2 linked regions of the Homo sapiens genome follow. The protein of the gene in region 1 purifies or fractionates together with the protein of each later gene. This does not show direct contact. Each region holds a gene or a part of one and is shown on either strand. Other genes may lie near its edges.

Region 1 (3,500 bases):
AGTTGAATTTCTTGGGTTTGGGTTCTAAGTACCACTGAAGGAAAATACAATGCATCTCATGAGAATTGTTGGAATAGCCTTCCAGAGTCAGCTGTTTTCTTTAAAAGACCTTTGTGAGGATATGATACATGGATACACATGTAACATGTATATGTGTTATTTTTGGTTTTTTTTTTTTTTTTGAGACAGAGTCTCGCTCTGTCGCCCAGGCTGGAGTGCAGTGGCGCAATCTTGGCTCACTGCAGACTCCGCCTCCCAGGTTCAAGCGATTCTCCTACCTCAGCCTCCTGAGTAGCTGGGACTACAGGCACACGCCAATATGCCTGGCTAATTTTTTGTATTTTATTTATTTATTTATATTTTTTGAGACAGAGTCTCGCACTGTCACCCAGGCTGGAGTGCAGTGGCGCCATCTCAGCTCACTGCAACCTCCGCCTCCCGAGTTCAAGCTGTTCTCTCCCTCAGCCTCCCAAGTAGCTGGGACTACAGGCACCCGCCACCACGCCCAGCTAATTTTTGTATTTTTAGTACAGACGGGGTTTCACCATGTTCGCCAGGATGGCCTCTATCTCCTGACCTCGTGATATACCCGCCTCGGCCTCCCAAAGTGCTGGGATTACAGGCGTAAGCCACTACGCCTGGCCAATTTTTTGTATTTTAGTAGAGACGGGGTTTCACCTTGTTGCCCAGGCTGGTCTCGAACCCCTGAGCTCAGGCAATCCACCCACCTTGGCCTCCCAAAGTGCTAGGATTACAAGCATGAGCCACCATACCTGGCCAGTTTTTTTTTTTTTTTTGAGACAGAGTCTCGTTCTTCCAGCCAGGCTGGAGTGCAGTGGCATGATCTCAGCCCACTGCAGTCCCTGCCTCCTGGGTTCAAGCAATTCTTGTGCTTCAGCCTCCCGAGTACCTGGGATTACAAGCGCACACCACCATGCTGGCTAATTTTTGTAATTTTAGTAGAGATGGGGGTTTCACCATGTTGGTCGGGCTGGTCTTGAACTCCTGACCTCAAGTGATCCACCCACCTCGGCCTCCCGCAGTGCTGGGATTACAGGCGTGAGCCACTGCACCCAGCTGTAACATGTGTATGTTTTATCATAAACACAGGAACATAGTTGACATAGTTTTTTTTGGTTTTTTTTTTTTTACCTACCAGTATATGGAGCATGTTTCCACACTCGTAATATTCTACACCACATCCATGACCTTTCTTTATTAAAGTGTTTAGAAAGTTGTATCAGAATGACTTGAGGGTAGTTGCATTTTGTTTTGTGTCTTTATCTCTTTAATAACTTACAGTCCCTTTAGAACAACTGTGAGTATTCTCCCTCTGTATTTTTATTTTAACCATTACTCAAGACATGACTGTTTACATAGGAGAGCTGGCTCAGATGTGAGAGAGAAACAAGGGGAAGTGTTAGTGTTAGTATGAACTTAGCCTTTTCTTATGCATTGTACAGTTCGGCCCTTGTGATAATACATATTTAGCATAATGAAGGTCCCCTGCCAGTTTACCAACTAATAAAGGGCCAAAAGCAACTTTAAAACTTGCATTTAAACCATTCTCGCTGTTCTAATTGAATTTAAAATTCTTTTTTTTTTTTTTTTAAGATAGAGTCTCGCTCTGTTGCTCAGGCTGGAGTGCAGTGGCATGATCTTGGCTTGCTGCAAGCTCCGCCTCCGGGGTCAAGCAATTCTCCTGCCTCAGCCTCCCGAGTAGCTGGGATTACAGGAGCCTGCCACCACTCCCGGCTAATTTTTGTGTTTTTAGTAGAGATGGGGTTTCACCATGTTGGCCAGGCTGGTCTCGATCTCCTGACCTTGTGATCTGCCCACCTTGGCCTCCCAAAGTGCTGGGATTACAGGCGTGAGCCACCACGCCCGGCCTAAAATTCTGTTTCTTTTAACAGTATTTTCAGAAAGTACATTGACTTGGAAACCTGAGTTTTCAGTTCATAAGTAGCAGGTTAAAGAGAATTGAGACCCTAGACTGGAAAAAGCTCATTATGGGAGTGAAGTGCATCCTTTACTTGCCATGTCTTGGCAATAGGTTATTTCCTTATACCAGCAAAACAGAATAAGCCATCATGCTTTGCTGGGAGATGTGTTTTACTAAATTTACACGAGTTTATGGGTCTGGTTAGCCAGATCTTTGCAGCCAAAATGAACCAAAGTTTATGTTATTAATCGACGTGGGGCTGGCCCAGGCCAGGGTTGCTAGCTGCAGCTCCGCTGATACTTCCAACTCTTGTAATCCAGCAGGGGCTCCTTCATCCTGTGGCAGCTGCTTTTGTCCCATTTGGGCTTTGGCCCCCAGCAACTTCACTTTCATCCTTGGCCTTGTCTCTGAACTTGTAGAAATAAGAAGTGGCCCTACACTACAGGTTGAGAGTAGATGCAGGAGTTGAAAGGGGAGTGTCTGTCTTATCTACTGTATTCAAAGCAGCTTTCCCAACTGTCCAGGCCAAATTAGATACCCTTTGGTATACGTCATGGCACTTGGAACTTTGCCTGATTAGCTGTTACCAGGTGTGGTTATTTAATGTTCCTTATCCCCAGTGTATTTGAATCTCTGTGATAGTGGAGAACTTGTGGCCTTTCTCACTGTTTGTCCCCAGCCTCCAGCATAGTCCGTGGTACACAGTAAGTGCTTAATGAGTATTTTTGAATGACTGACTAAAGGGTTAAAGTCAGCCTTCCTTCTTGTTGGTGACTGACTTGGACAAATAGAAAATAAATAACGGTGGCTTATGCCTGTATATTTTGTCTGTCCAACCTTCTTCAGTGTTCTGGTGTGGGGTCAGAAAGGGGAAACAGAGTTTTTATTTAACAATTTTTAATTTACTTTTTGAACTGGGTCATATAGTCCAAAAAAAGGGAAAAATACATAGTTTTCCAACACTTTCCTCAGCCTTTTCCCTTCTGTAGAGGGACCAAGGAATATAAGCTTTAGATCCCAAAGAAGATTAGGTGGTCTTCTAACCTAAGGATGGAAGCCTTTATTTATTTATTTATTTATTTATTTTATTTATTTATTTATTTATTTATTTATTTTTTGAGATGGAGTCTTGCTCTGTCGCCCAGGCTGGAGTGCAGTGGCGCCATCTCGGCTCACTGCAAGCTCCGCCTCCCGGGTTCACACCATTCTCCTGCCTCAGCCTCCCAAGTAGCTGGGACTATAGGCACCTGCCACCATGCCCGGCTACTTTTTTTGTATTTTTAGTAGAGACGGGGTTTTACCGTGTTAGCCAGGATGGTCTTGATCTCCTGACCTTGTGATCCGCCTGCCTCGGCCTCCCAAAGTGCTGGGATTACAGGCTTGAGCCACCGCGCCTGGCCTCAGGATGGAAGCCTTTAAATTAAGCTAAATGGGAAATCCAGGCTATTCCTCAAATGTGAATTATTAAGACTTCTTTAATTATAATTTTTGTTGTGATGGTGTTTTTGTTTTGTTTGGTTTTTACTTCCTGTCTCTGTCCCTCCCTTTTTAAAAATGT
Region 2 (3,500 bases), on another chromosome or scaffold:
AAAATGGACGTCCCCATGGGGTGTTGTGGAACCAAAATTGGGACTCACTGATCCTCCCACAGTCTGGGGTGTGAGAATGTTGCTAGTCTTTTTTCCACGGAAGTATTTTATGAGTACCCTCTCATTTTAACAATATCAACAATTAGTGTGTTTCAGGCTAATGCTGAAAGCATCTTTAGGGCCATAGAACATTGTAGTGAGTTGACCTTCTTCCCCTTTTTTGATACCTCTATGAAATGTTTGCCTATTTAGAAAGTTCACCTGTCACCCAGGGGGGAATAGAAAGCTGGGATTTAGGAAGCCAAAAAGTTTCCTTGGGTCACCTTGTCCAAGTTTCTCACTTAACAAGGAGGAAACAGAGGCACATGGAGATGAGATGGCTTGCCCCAAACTACAGCTGATGGAACTGGAAAGTTTAGAAGACATTTGTTGAGGTGCCTAGAATGTAGGGACCTTCATCCTCAAGCCAGAACTGGTCAGGATTTTTCTGCTTTGGGGATTGGATATAAAATTTCTAGAACTGAGTTTAATGGCAGGAAGATCAATTGGACCAATATTTACTGGGTACCCATGCTCAGACGTGCCAGGCACAGGGGGTAGGTCAGTGAGGGCTTAGGCCTTGGGGTTGAGGGGTGGGGGCAGGGAAGGCTGGAGGTGGAACATAAATAAGCAATTGCTGATGCCCGCCTCAGTGATTAAACATTGATGTTGGTGTTGTATTATTTTGCAGGTAAAGATGAGCCCAGCAGCTACACATGTACAACTTGCAAACAGCCATTCACCAGTGCATGGTTTCTCTTGCAACACGCACAGAACACTCATGGATTAAGAATCTACTTAGAAAGCGAACACGGAAGTCCCCTGACCCCGCGGGTTGGTATCCCTTCAGGACTAGGTGCAGAATGTCCTTCCCAGCCACCTCTCCATGGGATTCATATTGCAGACAATAACCCCTTTAACCTGCTAAGAATACCAGGATCAGTATCGAGAGAGGCTTCCGGCCTGGCAGAAGGGCGCTTTCCACCCACTCCCCCCCTGTTTAGTCCACCACCGAGACATCACTTGGACCCCCACCGCATAGAGCGCCTGGGGGCGGAAGAGATGGCCCTGGCCACCCATCACCCGAGTGCCTTTGACAGGGTGCTGCGGTTGAATCCAATGGCTATGGAGCCTCCCGCCATGGATTTCTCTAGGAGACTTAGAGAGCTGGCAGGGAACACGTCTAGCCCACCGCTGTCCCCAGGCCGGCCCAGCCCTATGCAAAGGTTACTGCAACCATTCCAGCCAGGTAGCAAGCCGCCCTTCCTGGCGACGCCCCCCCTCCCTCCTCTGCAATCCGCCCCTCCTCCCTCCCAGCCCCCGGTCAAGTCCAAGTCATGCGAGTTCTGCGGCAAGACGTTCAAATTTCAGAGCAACCTGGTGGTGCACCGGCGCAGCCACACGGGCGAGAAGCCCTACAAGTGCAACCTGTGCGACCACGCGTGCACCCAGGCCAGCAAGCTGAAGCGCCACATGAAGACGCACATGCACAAATCGTCCCCCATGACGGTCAAGTCCGACGACGGTCTCTCCACCGCCAGCTCCCCGGAACCCGGCACCAGCGACTTGGTGGGCAGCGCCAGCAGCGCGCTCAAGTCCGTGGTGGCCAAGTTCAAGAGCGAGAACGACCCCAACCTGATCCCGGAGAACGGGGACGAGGAGGAAGAGGAGGACGACGAGGAAGAGGAAGAAGAGGAGGAAGAGGAGGAGGAGGAGCTGACGGAGAGCGAGAGGGTGGACTACGGCTTCGGGCTGAGCCTGGAGGCGGCGCGCCACCACGAGAACAGCTCGCGGGGCGCGGTCGTGGGCGTGGGCGACGAGAGCCGCGCCCTGCCCGACGTCATGCAGGGCATGGTGCTCAGCTCCATGCAGCACTTCAGCGAGGCCTTCCACCAGGTCCTGGGCGAGAAGCATAAGCGCGGCCACCTGGCCGAGGCCGAGGGCCACAGGGACACTTGCGACGAAGACTCGGTGGCCGGCGAGTCGGACCGCATAGACGATGGCACTGTTAATGGCCGCGGCTGCTCCCCGGGCGAGTCGGCCTCGGGGGGCCTGTCCAAAAAGCTGCTGCTGGGCAGCCCCAGCTCGCTGAGCCCCTTCTCTAAGCGCATCAAGCTCGAGAAGGAGTTCGACCTGCCCCCGGCCGCGATGCCCAACACGGAGAACGTGTACTCGCAGTGGCTCGCCGGCTACGCGGCCTCCAGGCAGCTCAAAGATCCCTTCCTTAGCTTCGGAGACTCCAGACAATCGCCTTTTGCCTCCTCGTCGGAGCACTCCTCGGAGAACGGGAGTTTGCGCTTCTCCACACCGCCCGGGGAGCTGGACGGAGGGATCTCGGGGCGCAGCGGCACGGGAAGTGGAGGGAGCACGCCCCATATTAGTGGTCCGGGCCCGGGCAGGCCCAGCTCAAAAGAGGGCAGACGCAGCGACACTTGTGAGTACTGTGGGAAAGTCTTCAAGAACTGTAGCAATCTCACTGTCCACAGGAGAAGCCACACGGGCGAAAGGCCTTATAAATGCGAGCTGTGCAACTATGCCTGTGCCCAGAGTAGCAAGCTCACCAGGCACATGAAAACGCATGGCCAGGTGGGGAAGGACGTTTACAAATGTGAAATTTGTAAGATGCCTTTTAGCGTGTACAGTACCCTGGAGAAACACATGAAAAAATGGCACAGTGATCGAGTGTTGAATAATGATATAAAAACTGAATAGAGGTATATTAATACCCCTCCCTCACTCCCACCTGACACCCCCTTTTTCACCACTCCCCTTCCCCATCGCCCTCCAGCCCCACTCCCTGTAGGATTTTTTTCTAGTCCCATGTGATTTAAACAAACAAACAAACAAACAGAAGTAACGAAGCTAAGAATATGAGAGTGCTTGTCACCAGCACACCTGTTTTTTTTCTTTTTCTTTTTCTTTTTTCTTTTTCCTTTTTTTTTTTTTTCCTTTATGTTCTCACCGTTTGAATGCATGATCTGTATGGGGCAATACTATTGCATTTTACGCAAACTTTGAGCCTTTCTCTTGTGCAATAATTTACATGTTGTGTATGTTTTTTTTTAAACTTAGACAGCATGTATGGTATGTTATGGCTATTTTAAATTGTCCCTAATTCGTTGCTGAGCAAACATGTTGCTGTTTCCAGTTCCGTTCTGAGAGAAAAAGAGAGAGAGAGAGAAAAAGACCATGCTGCATACATTCTGTAATACATATCATGTACAGTTTTATTTTATAACGTGAGGAGGAAAAACAGTCTTTGGATTAACCCTCTATAGACAGAATAGATAGCACTGAAAAAAAATCTCTATGAGCTAAATGTCTGTCTCTAAAGGGTTAAATGTATCAATTGGAAAGGAAGAAAAAAGGCCTTGAATTGACAAATTAACAGAAAAACAGAACAAGTTTATTCTATCATTTGGTTTTAAAATATGAGTGCCTTGGATCTATTAAAACCACAT

Evidence for each region. Proteins that work in one complex are often made in the same cells at the same time.
Region 2: the proteins of SUDS3 (region 1) and BCL11A purify together in Homo sapiens (affinity purification with mass spectrometry, with the first as the bait; one large-scale study listed by BioGRID). This does not show direct contact.

The regions. Positions count from the first base shown.
Region 1 is NC_000012.12:118,407,555-118,411,054, forward strand, and holds part of SUDS3 (sin3 histone deacetylase corepressor complex component SDS3), read left to right. Parts: intron 1-3,500.
Region 2 is NC_000002.12:60,459,655-60,463,154, reverse strand, and holds part of BCL11A (BCL11 transcription factor A), read left to right. Parts: intron 1-730; coding exon 731-2,751; 3' UTR 2,752-3,500. UniProt on the Homo sapiens protein: Transcription factor. Associated with the BAF SWI/SNF chromatin remodeling complex. Binds to the 5'-TGACCA-3' sequence motif in regulatory regions of target genes, including a distal promoter of the HBG1 hemoglobin subunit gamma-1 gene.